Linked DNA regions of Homo sapiens: regions 2 and 3 are each linked to region 1. Evidence: fine-mapped QTL for protein levels in blood plasma. A gene starts in region 1. Each other region holds a variant in brackets. All regions are shown on one strand. Distances are between the middles of the regions. Region 1 holds the start of LXN (latexin). Region 2 overlaps RSRC1 (arginine and serine rich coiled-coil 1). Region 3 overlaps RSRC1 (arginine and serine rich coiled-coil 1).

What was found. PIP is the posterior inclusion probability: the model's chance that the variant is causal. The UK Biobank Pharma Proteomics Project read protein levels with antibody pairs (Olink). The fine-mapping took linkage between variants from a reference panel, not from the people measured, so its PIPs are less certain.
Region 2: its variant is fine-mapped to the plasma level of the LXN protein (UK Biobank, PIP above 0.99).
Region 3: its variant is fine-mapped to the plasma level of the LXN protein (UK Biobank, PIP above 0.99).

The regions. Positions count from the first base shown.
Region 1 is chr3:158,669,732-158,674,731 of GRCh38, reverse strand. It overlaps LXN (latexin), which reads left to right and starts at 2,084. Exons shown (of 6, transcript NM_020169.4): 1 at 2,084-2,382; 2 at 3,713-3,775. The coding sequence starts at 2,254. All of the region lies in intron 13 of GFM1 (G elongation factor mitochondrial 1), which reads right to left. RefSeq lists enhancers at 1,711-1,900, 2,211-2,260, 1,682-2,274, 2,701-2,760, 2,275-2,867.
Region 2 is chr3:158,336,607-158,341,953 of GRCh38, reverse strand. All of the region lies in intron 5 of RSRC1 (arginine and serine rich coiled-coil 1), which reads right to left. It also overlaps the pseudogene LILRA2P1. Among named protein-coding and RNA genes, the nearest start is that of UC.134, 190 kb to the left of the region's middle. The variant A/G (reference allele first, on the strand shown) is at 3,089.
Region 3 is chr3:158,328,784-158,334,130 of GRCh38, reverse strand. The region is part of intron 5 of RSRC1 (arginine and serine rich coiled-coil 1); the gene reads right to left. Among named protein-coding and RNA genes, the nearest start is that of UC.134, 200 kb to the left of the region's middle. RefSeq lists an enhancer at 4,136-4,665. The variant C/A (reference allele first, on the strand shown) is at 2,600.

The DNA of each region.
Region 1 (5,000 bases):
TATCTTTTCTTTTCAAGGAGAGAGGAAAAAGCTTAAATATAAGCCATGTTATTAATAAAAAACCTTGAAGTATGGAAATAAAATATGGGCAGTCTTCTACTTAAAATGCTCTTAGACAAATAAGACAAATACTGTTCTCCGAAAGTCTTATTTTTTTATTTCTGGTGTTCTTCTAAAGTGTCTCTCAAATGAACAGTCTTCTTCATGTCAAAGTTCCCCAAATTTCACCAATTCTTTGGTAAATTTATCCCAGGAGACAGTGTAAGTTCGTATCTGACAACCCCATCGAAAATTGGCTGATATTCTGTATTTGCAAAAATATTGCCATGGGTGGGTCAGGGTTTAACAAATGCTGAACTAAGAAACGTGGAGAGGCCAGGCACGGTGGCTCATGCCTGTAATCCTAACACTTTGGGAGGCAGAGGAGGGAGGATTGCCTGAACTCAACATGGTGAAACCCCATCTCTACTAAAATACAAAAAAATTAGCCAGGTGTGGTGAAGTGCACCTGTAGTCCCAGATACTAGGGAGGCTGAGGCAGGAGAAATGCTTGAACCTGGGAGGTGGAGGTTGCAGTGAGCCGAGATCACGCCACTGCACTGCAGCCTAGGCAACAGAGCGAAACTCTGTCTCCAAAAAAAAAAAAAAAAAGGTCATGTGTGAAAGACAGTGTCTCGCAAAGCAAATTTCTCATACACGGACAAGACTGAGAAAAGTTTCATTGACATTTGATACAAGATGATGGGCAAGCAGACAGATGGTATTTAAAGGCAAAGTCAATCAGAACCCCCAAATCCCAGGAGACAATAATAAGCATGAAACTGAGGCCAAAGTCCAGAATCCAGATTTACTGCAGAATCTACATAATCAGAAAGAGATACACCTCAAGAGTCTTGGGTGTGTGCATTACTACCAAGTTAAAGGTCCTGGCCAGGCATGGTGGCTTATGCCTGTAATCCCAGCACTTTGGGAGGCTAAGGTGGGTGGATCACCTGAGGTCAGGAGTTTGAGACCAGCCTAGCCTAAACCCGTCTCTACTAAAAATACAAAAAACTAGCCGGGCATTGTGGTGGGCACCTGTAATCCCAGCTACTCTGGAGGCTGAGGCAGGAGAACTGCTTGAACCCAGGAGGCGGACGTTGCAGTGAGCCGAGATAGCACCATTGCACTCCAGCCTAGGCAACAAGAGTGAAATTCCATCTCAAAAAAAAAAAAAAAAAAAAGAAAAGAAAAGAAAAAAAGGTCTCAATCCAGGCAGCGAAGACCTTGGCCAAACTTTGGTAGAATCTCCAAGTTATCCTAGCCCAATTAACCTAAGACCACCAAGGATAAACCTGTACTTCTACAAAGTCAGGTTTATAGGCCCATTGCAATGAGGTAGACCACATACCAGAGAGAGTGCTTTGTATAAGTTCAGTTTTTAAGTTTATTTTAATCCTTGAAGTAAAATATTCAAAATGACTCAAGTTGGAAGCATGGCGTTACATCAAAACTTATCATTTTAAGATTAGTAAAGGAGAGGGGTACAGGTGCATTTTTTTATTTCTCCTGATCCAAATTACATAATCTCCCAATTTAATACTATAGTTTGCAGATTCTCATACTTTGATTTGGGCAGAACTGGTCCAAACCCACAAAAAGCTGAGGATGAGCAAGCCTCTTCCTGGACTCTCATAAGGGGAAGGGAAATGAAGGAATCGAATCACTACCTGGAGTACTGTGTACCTTGCCCTGCCAGGGACGCTGCATGCGGTGTATAAGGAAGTTGTGCTCCAGTATGCAAGCGAAGCAACCAGACTTTTTTCCCATGGACAGGAAACTAGAGTCTTCAGAGATGTCCTATATCAGCGAAAGCCCCACCCTGCACTTCTATAAAGGTTAATGAAACGAAAGATGCAATCCCAGCGAACCTAGCCCACTGACTCCCTCCCCACACCTCCACCTGCTGGTGCCTGACAAGCATGCTGGCCTCTCCTCCAGTAGGAACCAGCAGGCGGAGTAAGGAAGCCCGCTGCAGGCAGTAGTGGGGCGGGGCCTCAGAAGCAGTCAGCCCAGGGCTCTCGGATGCAGGGAGCCTGGGCCCAAACAGCAGCTTCCGGAGTCGGAAGGAGCTGAGGAAGAAGACTGACTGAAGGAGCTTGCGACTTTTCCGCCTCGGCAACCGGACCCAGCAGCAAGCAGGACGGGCGGCGCTCTGCTACTGGTCCCGTTAAGCCAGAGTAGCCCAAGCCCTGAAGTCACTGCTCATCCGGAATGGAAATCCCGCCGACCAACTACCCAGCCTCCAGGGCGGCCTTGGTGGCACAGAACTACATCAACTACCAGCAGGGGACCCCGCACAGGGTGTTTGAGGTGCAGAAGGTCAAACAAGCCAGCATGGAGGTGAGTTTAGCAGGGGGTGGTGGACAGCAGAGGCTTCAGGATTGCGCTCCCTCCACTCACCCGCGGTCTCAGCCTTTGGGTGCAGACACTCCGTGCCACCCCCTACCCACCTTCTGTTTTAGGACACACTGCTGGTATCTGGTCTTGAGATATTAAGGTTTCTGGGGGAATGTCTATACTCCAGTCTCTGGAGACAGCCCGGGACTGTTTTCACCTTAAGGCAGAGACAAAGTTTTTACGCACACAGTTACAAGAAAACGGGAACACGCTCTAGGTAAGGGGCAGCACTTTCCTTAAGTGTAAACTGTAGAAACCATTCAAAAGACTACTAAGGCTGCCACGTTTCTCATCTGCTACTCTGATCTGGACCAACAAAAGCTCCCATCTTCCAAGACTCTATTGCCTACATTTTAAGACAAATCCTTATCAGACCCTTTGACCAAAATGAAGGGGGAAACAAACAGCAAGAGAAACTGACAATCAAAGTCAAAGAATAAAAGCACTGTGGGCTGACGCTGGCCTTTAGCCACCCAAACACCGCTACCACATGACTGCCTTAAATGATGTGCACCCTCTGCTAAAGGCTTGAATTAAATGTTTAAGGCCTCAGCAATCACTAACGAGGTTTGTTTTCATTTTACGAAAATCTACTGGATTTGAGATTATCCCTTATTTATCTGACAGAATTTTAACTGCTAACAGTCTTTTAGAGGTGACACAGTAGATCTTATTTTGAAACTGTACCAGATAACAGAATTAGGTATAAATTTTCAATCTGTATCTTGATTTAAAAGTGAAATACCATTTCTTAGTCTTATATAATTTGTTAATCATTTTGCAGTTTCACTAATGTATAAGTAAAAACAATACTTAATTGTATTAAGTCTCCAATTGCTTTGCAGTAATCTGCCTCAAAATGAAATTCACATTCATTGAACATTATTTGGAGGGTACACTGAGCTTTATGAAAAAATCTTTTCAAAGGTGATATTGTCATCTTTAGAATTAAACGCTGTTTCAAACTTTCTTATGTAGAGACTTTAAGATCACAGATCCAGGGGTTAAATAAAGTCTTTTGATGATTGAAAGTGAATTGTGCCCAATTTGTATGCTTTTATCCTACTCTTTTGTTTTCATCCAAAATAAACTTGATAGGGGACTTGCTAAATTAGATGTTACATTCATGGTGACATGCCTTTTTCAAGACCTAAGGCTTTCACCATTCCCCTTCAGCCAGCCCCTCCAACCAAATGAGATGCATACTTCTAACAATGCAAGTATAATGTTGTTATAATATTTTCTTGTCTCCACTACATTTTCTTAATTTTAGGATATTCCAGGAAGAGGACATAAGTATCACCTTAAATTTGCTGTTGAAGAAATTATACAAAAAGTAAGTTAAATTTCTTTTTTCTTTGAGACAGGGTCTCACTCTATCACCCAGGCTGAAGTGCAGTGGCAGAACATGGCTCACTGCAGCCTCAACTTCCCGGGCTCAGGCCATCTTCCCACCTCAGCCTCCCCAAATAGCTGGGACCACAGGTGCATGCCACTACACCTGGCTAATTTTTGTGATCCTCCTGCCTCTGCCTCCCAAAGTGCTAGGATTACAAGCATGAGCTACCAAGCCCAGCCAAAATGTTCTTATTAAACAAATTTAATTCTAAATATTCCAGATCATCTTTGCTGATCAAATCTGTAAGATTGATTAGTTTTACCTCTTTTTAAAAAGTTGTTGTGAAATACCTGCCTCTGAAAAACACTGACCATATGGGCAAAGTTTACAAGGATCAGTTCTTTACTATCTTTGGGTATTCCTAGGTATATGAATTATTTCTACCAAACTACACAAAAAAAGACTATACACTTCAGTTCAAATGAATTTCTTAAGAAGTTACATACTCTTAGGGCAGTCTGAACTTATGCCTAATATAAATGAGTGAAGTAATTTATTCCCCAATCAATCATCTTCTTAACGTCTGCTTTTCTCATTCTATTTTTCACTGGGTTTTTAGAGAAAGAACGTGCTCTTAGATATTCAGAAGCAATAGAATGCCAGCTGATACCACCATTCAGATGAAGATCTTTCAGTAATGGGGAAGGGAAATTTTAAAGATTATACACAACTGTCAAATTATTAATGAGACAAACTTAAAAGAAAGGAACTGCAATCTGTACCACAGCCATCTTGAAATTTTAAAAAGCTTGCCTTTCTGTTGAGCATAATTCATAAAGAGATTCATTAAAAGGCATCTGAGCTGCTAGACAGCCATCTTTACAAAGCATAACCCAATGCCATAATCTTCTAATTTTATATCCAGACACAGACTGCTGCATCTGCATTTCAAAAACTTTGTTATTTCAGGAGCAAAGAGTAAGAGTAATGGAAAAACTTTAAAAGTAACCAGTCTTGAGTTGGTATATAAAGTCAGATTAAAATCTGGCCTTGCAAATGGACACCCCATTAATACTGAAATATACTGAAAGTTTTAAGACTAGAATTCATAAGATTATGACACCATATCATTTATAAAGTAAGTTATCTATTTTAGGGTATTCACATGATAAGTCTAGAATTTAATAGGCCAGGCCCAATTAGATACCTCTGAAAACAAGCA
Region 2 (5,347 bases), 330 kb after region 1:
GGGCAGTCAAACTTTAAAGTTCCAAAATTATCTCCTTTGACTCCAGGTCTCAAATTCAGATTACGCTGATGCAAGAGGTGGGTTCCCATGGTCTTGGGCAGCTCCACCCCGTGACTTTGCCTGGTACAGCCTCCCTCCCGGCTGCTTTCATGGGCTAGCATTGAGTGTCTGTGGCTTTTCCAGGCACACGGTTCAAGCTGTCAATAGATCTGTGATTCTGGGGCCTGAAGGATGGTGGCCCTCTTCTCACAGATCTACTAGGCAGCACCCCACTAGGGACTCTGTGTGGGGGCTCTGACCCCATATTTCCATTCTGCACTGTCCTGGCAGAGGTTCTCCATTAGGGCCCTGCTCCTGCAGCAAACTTTTGCCTGGGCAACCAGGCGTTTCCAAACATCTCCTGAAATCTAGGCACAGGTTCCCAACCCTCAATTCATGACTTCTGTGCACCTGCAGGCTTAATAACACCTGGAAGCTTCCAGGGCTTGGGGCTTCCACCCTCTGAAGCTACAGCCCGAGCTGTACATTGGCTCTTTTCAGCCATGGCTGGAGTGGCTGGGACACAGGGCACGAAGTCCCTAGGCTGCACACAGCATAGGGACCTGGACCTGGCCCACGAAACCACTTTTTCCTGCTGGGTCTCTGGGCCTGTGATGGGAGGGGCTGCCATGAAGGTCTCTGACATGGCCTGGAGACATTTTCCCCATGGTCTTGGGGATTAACATGAGGCTCCTTACTACTTATGTAAATTTCTGCAGCCAGCTTGAATTTCTCCCCAGAGAATGTTTTTTTTTCTATTGCGTAGTCAGGCTGCAAATTTTCTGAACTTTTATGCTCTGTTTCTCTTTTAAGACTGAATGCCTTTAACAATACCCAAGTCACCTCTTGAATGCTTTGCTGCTTAGAAATTTCTTCCACCAGATACCCTAAATCATCCACAAATCTCTAGGGTGGGGGCAAAATGCCACCAGTCTCTCTGCTAAAACATAACAAGAGTCACCTTTGCTCCAGTTCCCAACAAGTTCCTCATCTCCATCTGTGACCACCTCAGCCTGGATTGTATTGTCCGTATCGCTATCAGCATTTTGGGCAAAGCCATTCAACAAGTCTCTAGGGAGTTCCAAACTTTCCCACATTTTCCTCCACAGGAGGTACTGTTCCAGCCTCTGCCTGTTACCCAGTTCCAAAGTCGTTTCCACATTTTCAGGTATCTTTTCAGCAACACCCCATTCTATTGGTACCAATTTACTGTATTAGTCCGTTTTCAAACTGCTAATAAAGACATACCCGACACTGGGAACAGAAAGAGGTTTAATTGGTCTTACAGTTCCACATGGCTGGGGAGGCCTCAAAATCATGGTGGGAGGCAAAAGGCACTTCTTTTTTTTGTCTTTCTTTTCTTTTTCTTTTTTTGAGACGGACTCTTGCTCTGTCGCCCAGGCTGGAGTGCAGTGGTGTGATCTCAGCTCACTGCAACCTCCGCCTCCCGGGTTCAAGCGATTCTCCTGCCTCAGCCTCCTGAGTAGCTAGGACTACAGGTGCATGCCATCATGCCCAGCTAATTTTTGTATTTTTAGTAGAGCCAGGGTTTCACCATATTGGGCAGGCTGGTCTTGAACTCCTGACCTTGTGATTCACCCACCTCGGCCTCCCAAAGTGCTGGGATTACAGGTGTAAGCCACCATGCCTGGCCAGGGAGCGGCAAGAGAAAAATGAGGAGGAAGCAAAAGCAGAAACCCCTGATAAAGTCATCAGATCTCGTGAGACTTATTCACTATCACGAGAATAGCACAGGAAAGACCAGCCCCCATGATTCAATTACCTCCCCCTGGATCCCTCCCACAACACATGGGAATTATGGGAGATACAATTCAAGTTGAGATTTAGTGGGGACACAGCCAAAGCATATCACTCTACATATAAATCTATATGTTGCCTTTGTCTCCATAACTTCCTGTTCCTAACTAATGAGTGTTCTTTCAAAGCTCAGCTCAAGTAACATCACTTTCAGAAAATCTCATCAGTTTTAGCTTATTTTCTCCCTAACTCTCTTCCTGATGATTACAATTTCCTGCTCTGTCTTCCTGTAATGCCCTGGGGAAACATGTATCAGCACACTTATCATTTTCAGTTTAATTAATTGTTCTGTTGTCTGTCTTTTCTACCAGGCTATCAGCTTTTTGAAAGCAACCATTGTCTTATATCTCTGTATCATTAGCACCTAGGAGAGTGCCTGAAATACAGTTGGTGATCAGTAAGTATATATTTGAGATAAACTTCCTTGTAAACTTTAAAATCCTCCTTAGTGTCATACATAATTTACTTTTGAATTATCAATTTCACTGAAATCTATCTCTTAGGAAGGATTCATCCAACTCAAAGAGCTGGATGTTTAAGGGAATGATAATGGTGTAAGAGAAATTACAACACATGGTAATAATAAACCACGTAATCTACATTATAAATAATAATTAACCAAACTATTTGGTAATACAATGGCAATTCTTAAAGTGATCTTATGAGCTCCAAATGCACATAAGTGATAACTTCTATGTGCCATATCTTTCCCAGACAACATGACAGACATTCCTGAAATAGAACATTAGCTGCCTGAAAAATATTAGTATCATTTTTTTTTTTTTTTTTTTTTTTTTTGAGACGGAGTCTCGCTCTGTCGCCCAGGCCGGACTGCGGACTGCAGTGGCGCAATCTCTGCTCACTGCAAGCTCCGCTTCCCGGGTTCACGCCATTCTCCTGCCTCAGCCTCCAGAATAGCTGGGACTACAGGCGCCCGCCACCGCGCCCGGCTAATTTTTTGTATTTTTAGTAGAGACGGGGTTTCACCTTGTTAGCCAGGATGGTCTCAATCTCCTGACCTCATGATCCATCCTCCTCGGCCTCCCAAAGTGCTGGGATTACAGGCGTGAGCCACCGCGCCCGGCCCTAGTATCATTTTTGAAAAAATATAATATCTATTATTTATCATATGCTTATAATGTTCGAGATCCCATGCTAAACATTTTACATACCTCATTTAACAAAATTCTCACAACATTCCTAACAAGGCAGGCATTCTTAATGCTTTTAG[A/G]GAAGAATAAGTTACCTTAAATGGCAAAGCTGACAAGGTGGCAGAGCTTGAATTTTAATTCAGCTCACAACATCTAAGCCTTAACAATACTACACTGCTTACAACAGCTTGAGATCCATTTGCTCATTAACTTTCATAGGGAAAAAAGATAAATCTAATCATTTTTAATTGCCAGAAAAGACTATGCAGAGTTAAAACTAAATTTCCTTTAGTCTTTGGATGCTACCATTAATGGCCTTAAAGGTTGTGAGCACCATCTAAAAAGCTAATTTTAATCATGCTTTCTCAGATGCACAACTTTAAAAAACTACTAAACATATTTGCAGTGTAGGTACTGTGCAGTTTCCTTTAAATGTAATCTCACTATGACAGAGACACATATCAACAGCTTATCATATTTCTAGCTACATTTCATTTTAACAGTTACTATAATTCTATCTCTTAGGATCAAGGTCTAAGCTAGAGATATTACAAATAGCTCAAAAGTAGATTTATCTTGCCTCTAGAACTTAGTACCAAGTTGGTTTAAATAAAAACCAAAAGAAGAAAAGAAAAAAACCCAAGAACATGTTTTCCATTCTTGATAGCAAATTCATCTGAAGAGTTTTATCAAACATTTTCTCTAAACAGTTTAAGGGGTTTGCAAAAAAAAAAAGCAAAGTTATATAATAGCTGTCTTTATTAAAAACCAGAGAAAGATGCCATTTTATATACATATTTCATAGATGAGGATGTTAAACTATAAAGGTGAAACTGAAGCAAAGGTTACAACATCCTTGAGGACTTGCTTGAGAGCCCATATTCATGATCCAATACTATTACCTCCTCAGTGATGCTGCTTGTATACTATACAAATACATAGCCATACAAAAGCCTCAGCATCTAATGAATTAAGAGCTGACTTAAAAATGTAGAATAATAATTCAATCTACCACAGATTTTGTACAGATTAAATGTAATCCTTCTCCATGTAATCATCATAAAATGAAAACTCAGTAAAGCGTTAGCTATTAAATTATTTCAGATTTTTGGAGAGAAGTGGTTCATGAGGGTATAAGGAAGGTAAGATTTTACATCGAGGCTACCTGTTTAGCTAGGAGAATCGATAGCATAGCTACTAAGTAAGGTGCAGCCAGGATGAGATAGGTTTTAGAACACAGGAAGGACTTAACATAATGGAGGTATCTTGTTTAGGTCAAAATTGACCCCCATGGACAGATTCAGTGCTAACAATATGTTAGGAATATAGAAAGGGAAGAAAGGGAAACTAATAATTATTCTAACCACCTCTCCAGCAATGCCTATTCTGGACAGTTTGTACCCACTATGATCATAGATTTGCAGGAACTCATCATCATTTCCCTATTATGTATGTAAAGAGATGGAAGCTCAGCATTAAGAAGCAAGGGCCATGCGCCCACACAGCATTTCAGAGCAGCTCTCGGATTGGCAGTTCTCCCTGTCCTGTTACTTAGTCTGAGACTCTCTTACCCCATGCTTTGTACAAAGATTAAAATGCTGATGTGGGACTGGGGACAGAAAAAACGGATCACATGAGACTGATTTTAGTTGGAAGTGCAGATGATGAATGTCTTCATGATAGCAAGGACTTCTGCAGCCCCACTCAGAAGGAGGTGGAATGAGGATGTGGAATGAGGATGTGGAATGTCTTCGCTCTCCGCGTGGGAAGCGGGACACTCCTACAACTTCCTGCAGGTCTTTCTCACATGGCAGAGGACCTGTTCTTCATAAGAGCAGCATTGGTGAGGCCAGGGAGACTGTTTAGACACAGGATCATAAATGTGGTTCTTCTTACCCTACTTTGTCTTGGGTCCTATCCATGCCAGTTAACTCAGGCACAGACGGGAAATCTCCCACCTCTTATCACGGCTATGCCGGGCTCCCTGATTTCATCTAACAAGTCTGTAAGCATCCTGGTCAAGGGCCATCAGAAACTGAAACACATAGGATATGTAACGTGGAAAGTCCTGAGCCCTCCAACAGAAATAAATGAGTGTGGGAAGACGAACATAAGGAATATCACAGAGATGCTGCCAAACAGGTCAGGGCTGTACCACTGTTACTACTGAAGCAGAGACCACTAGTCTGAGTGAACCTCTGAAGCTGGTAATGACCACAGCTTATGACAAACCCTTTCTCTCAATCATGCCAGGCACTGAGGTGGCATCACGAGAGAATATGAAGTTGCAATGTTTCTCAAAATTTGAACTTGGTTTATTTATTCTCACCAAATAAGAT
Region 3 (5,347 bases), 340 kb after region 1:
TTATAGCCTTCTTTTTTTGCTGCCATAATTTTAAGTATCAGCACATTTTTTAGTCCATAAACATTAACATTTCAGGATGTTCTAGAAAACACGTTATTTTAAACAATTATATAAATGTCTTTCCTGACCCTTTTAGGATTCAGTTTAAAATAATACTTCCCACTTTTTAAATCCTTCTGTAGTGTTGCAATGGTTATTTGTAAGACACCCATTCTCTGTGCTACTTTTCTTTCAACTTCTACTTTTCTTTCAACTTCTTTATTTTGTCTCCCTTTGTATGACTGCTGGAAAGGGAATGGTGTTCTCCTGCAGCACCAATTACCTGGAACAGTCTACCTATTTCTCTCTTTGCTTTAGAGACTTCACATAGATTTTTAATTCCCTTGACAAAACCTTCTGTGTTTTTATTCCAAGTTATAATTTCTATCTTTGAATGCAGTTACTTTACTTTGCCTCTGATAGAGCTTTCAAATTTACTTTTTTGAAGCTTTGTCCTCACTCAATGAAAAGTGCTGAAAGTACTAGAATGCTTTTTACAATATGTTTTGTCCTAAAAAATATATTAAATATCGAGCTGTCTGAACCAATGTGTTCAAAATACACACTAATACAGATTAACCAACTAAAAAAGATCAAACACATACTTTATTTCATGCTACTATAAATGTGTTACAAAAAATAATTTTATTTAAATACTGTACTGAGAGATTTTTCTAGATGGAATATTTGCATAGAGGGCATGTTTCATAGTAATCACTAGTTTTATATGGTAGGAAAAAAGGCAAAACACAAAAGATTAATTGGATGTCAGAAGAACTGCATTCTAGAATTGACTGAGGGCTTTGGTTTCCTTACCTATGCAAGTCTGCTCATCACAATGTTTCTAAAAACAAAAAAGCGTTTGGGAGGCCAAGGTGGGCAGATCATGAGGTCAGGAAATCGAGACCATCCTGGCTACCATGGTGAAACCCTGTCTCTACTAAAAATACAAAAAATTAGCTGGGCATGGTGGCAGACACCTGTAGTCCCAGCTACTTGGGAGGCTGAGGCAGGCGAATGGCGTGAACCCGGGAGGCGGAGCTTGCAGTGAGCCAAGATAGCGCCACTGCAGTCCGGCCTGGGCGAAAGAGCGAGACTCTGTCTCAAAAAAAAAAAAAAACAAAAAACAGAAAAGCATCCCTAAGAGAAAAATGATTAAATAAATTATGGTCCAAATCCATGATGGAAGTAGCATAACAGTCAATTTTTCAAATGTAAAGACATTTAGTAACATGCAGAAATGCTAACATTACATTTTTTAAAAACTACAAAACTATGTAAAATGATCCAGATTTGGAAAAAAAAATTCAAAATAATATGCTATCATAGAAAAATACATAGCAAAATGGTAATAATTTTTCTTTTTCTTTTTTATCCTTAATCCTATCTGTTTTCTAAGTAAAATTTGACTGGATGGATCAGGGAAAAATGGATATTATGACAAAAGGAAAAAATCTTTAAAAGATAAGGAAAATAGTAAATTAAAAATTTTGAAGTTTATAATTAAGTACAAAGTATGTTTATATCACACGTTTTCATAAAAACAGTCTCCCTATTTAAGAAATGTTTAAGTTTTGCAAGAAATATTTAAGTTTTGCCTGTAATCTAACTTTTGACACCTACTCCTGCTCCTACCATGAGGTTACGGATTTATTTTAAGAGGTGAAACTTATAATGAATAAACATACCAGTTTTTTGCCCCAGGAGACCTAGAATCAATAACTGGCTCAAGTAATAAGTGAAAATGATATAGATGATCAAACACGGATGTTTTAGTCAACATTAGTATAATCACAAAACCACTTCACAATTCATCATAACTAATGATCTCTACTTCAGGAAAGTCCAAAACTATGGGTGTTGTTAGTTATGATTAAAAAGTATTGGCAGAAACTTGATTGCTAATTTATGATGGTATATTTCTTTTAAAATTCTAATGTAGAGCCAAAGTAAGATAAATATATATAATGAATACATTATTCCTTGGGCTTTCATTCTAAAACAATCAGAGATCCCTCTCTCTTTCTTGCTAGTCTCTTTGTGACTCCTCTTTTCTGACCTAAAAAATGACATAAATTAAGTTCTACTTTTATTTATGAAATTTGCTACATTAATAACAATATATAATCAAAAGTACTGCTTTGTATACTTTAAAAGATATATATTATGAAAGAGCAACTAAATAATATATTAGTATGGTAGTGTAGGAATGATAATCCAACTCTTTACCACATGATTAACACCCACTTATACTTAAAAAAAAAAAAAGACCACTATACCAAAATGAAAAAAAATATGTAATCTTATTCAGGTTTTTTGCATATATTTTGTTTTTTATTTGTTAGGCCATGAGGAAAAAAATATTCCAATAAGGAAAATGAATACACTTCAAAAAAACTTCAAGATTAAACTATATGAAATACTGATACTTAATCATTTGTTAACTATAAAAGTGGCAAGTTCATTTGGTTCAAACTAACAGAATAAGAATTCACATGGGAGAAGGGCTGAATTTTTAGGCTTAGAAGTAACAGAAGAAATCATAAAGAAAAAAACCCAA[C/A]AGATTTGACTACATAAAAATATTCAATTTTATATAAAAAGTATCCAGCAACACAGAACTAAAATAAAATGGCAAAACAGTGACAATAAATTTATTAGAAACAAATTTAACCAAGTTAATAGCTTCATTCAAAAAAAGTTCTTGTAAGTTTATAACAAAATCACTAATTCTTAAAAGAGAACAAAAAAGCATAAGAAACTCACACGCACAAAAGACTACTAGTCAAGCTCTCTCCTCAAATTTCTCTTGTAGAATTCACTATGCCATTATTAAAATATGTAAATGTGAAAAATATAAATGACAGCTAATTCTAGCCAATGATGTTGATATGGTTTGGCTGTGTGTGTTCCCCTCACCCTCTGAGCCCAACACCAAATCTCAAATTGTAGCTCTCATAATTCCCAAGTGTTGTGGGAGGGACCCAGTGGGAGGTAACTGAATCATGGGAGCAGGGCTTGTGATAATGATTAAGTCTCAAGAAATCTAATTGGTTTTACAAAGGGGAATTCCCCTGCACATGCTCTCTGTATCGTCTGCTGCCATGTGAGACATGACTTTGCTCCTACTTTGTCTTGTGCTATGATTGTGAGGCCTCCCCAGCCACATGGAGCTGTGAGTCCATTAAACCTTTTTTTTTTTTTTTAATAAGTTACCCAGTCTCAGGTAGGTCTTTATTAGCAGCATGAGAACAGACTAATACAGATGTAAAACTCTCATGCCTCATTAGCGGTATTATAAATTGATATAATATTTATAGAAAGCAATTTAAAATTATGTGAATGGAGCCCTTCAAGTACTCATACTCCTTGAGAAAATGTTTCCAATTTGGGGACCTAGAGAAAATATTTAAAACATGGAAAAGCTAAGAACATTCAGATATTCAGAAAATTCCTTAGAAGAGCAAAGATCAAAAAATAACCTAAATATCCAACAATAAAGAACTAGTTAGGTCACTCTACTTAATGAGATATAGTGTACCTATTGAAAACAATGACAATGTTAACACGAAAAGGTGTCCAAAATTGCCTACCATCCAGAAAATGGTAGGGTACTATATATTAAGAACATTTAAAATACTCATACCCTTTGACATAGGATTTTCATTTTAAGAATCTAGCCTAATGCAATTATTTAAGATACGTACAAAAATCTGTTCATAGAACATTAGCAAGATGGCTGAATAGGAACAGCTCCAGTCTACAGCTCCCAGAGTGAGCGACGCAGAAGACGGGTGATTTCTGCATTTCCAACTGAGGAAATCTCACTGGGGCTCGTCAGACAGTGGGGGCAGGACAGTGGGTGCAGTCCACCTAGTGTGAGCTGAAGCAGGGCGAGGCATCGCCTCATCCAGGAAGTGCAAGGGGTCAGGGAATTCCCTTTACTAGCCAAGGGAAGGGGTGACAGATGGCACCTGGAAAATCGGGTCACTCCCACCCTAATACTGCACTTTTCCAAGGGTCTTAGCAAACGGCACACCAGGAGATAATATCCTGCGCCTGGCTCGGAGGGTCCAACGCCCACGGAGCCTCGCTCATTGCTAGCACAACACTCTGAGATCGAACTGCAAGGCGGCAGCGAGGCTGGTGGAGGGGTGCCCACCGCTGCTGAGGCTTGAGTAGGTGAACAAAGCAGCCCAGAAGCTCGAACTGGGTGGAGCCCACCTCAGCTCAAGGAGGCCTGCCTGCCTCTGTAGACTCCACCTCTGGGGGCAGGGCATAGACAAACAAAAGGCAGCAGAAATCTCTGCAGAGTTAAACGTCCCTGTCTGACAGCTTTGAAGAGAGTAGTGGTTCTCTCAGCACGGAGTTTGAGATCTGAGAATGTTCAGACTGTCTCAAGTGGGTCCCTGATCCCCGAGTAGCCTAACTGGGAGGCACCCCCCAGTAGGGGCACACTGACAGCTCACACAGCCGGGTACCCCTCTGAGATGAAGCTTCCAGAGGAACGATCAAGCAGCAACATTTGCTGTTCAGCAATATTCGCTGTTCTGCAGCCTCTGCTGCTGATACCCAGGCAAACAGGGGCTGGAGTGGACCTCCAGCAAACGCCAACAGACGTGCAGCTGAGGGTCCTGACTGTTAGAAGAAAAACTAACAAACAGAAAGGACATCCACACCAAGACCCCAACTGTATGTCACCATCATGAAAAACCAAAGGTAGATAAAACCACAAAGATGGAGAAAAAACAGAGCAGAAAAGCAGAAAATTCTAAAAATCAGAGCACCTCTCCCCCTCCAAAGGAACGTAGCTCCTCGCAAGTAATGGAACAAAGCTGGATGCAGAATGACTTTGACGAGTTGAGAGAAGAAAGTTTCAGACGATCAAACTTCTCAGAGCTAAAGGAGGAAGTTCGATCCCAATGCAAAGAAGATAAAAACCATGAAAAAAGATTAGATGAATGGCTAACCAGAATAACCAGAGTAGAGAAGTCCTTAAATGACCTGATGGAGCTGAAAACCATGGCACAAGAACTATGTGACAAATGCACAACCTTCAGTAGCTGATTTGATCAACTGGAAGAAAGGGTATCAGGGATGGAAAATCAAATGAATGAAATGAAGTGAGAAGAGAAGCTTAGAGAAAAAAGAGCAAAAAGAAATGAACAAAGCCTCCAAGAAATATGGGACTATGTGAAAAGACAAAATCTACGTCTGATTGGTGTACCTGAAAGTGATGGGGAGAATGGAACCAAGCTGGAAAACACTCTTCAGGATATTATCCAGGAGAACTTTCCCACCCTAGCAAGGC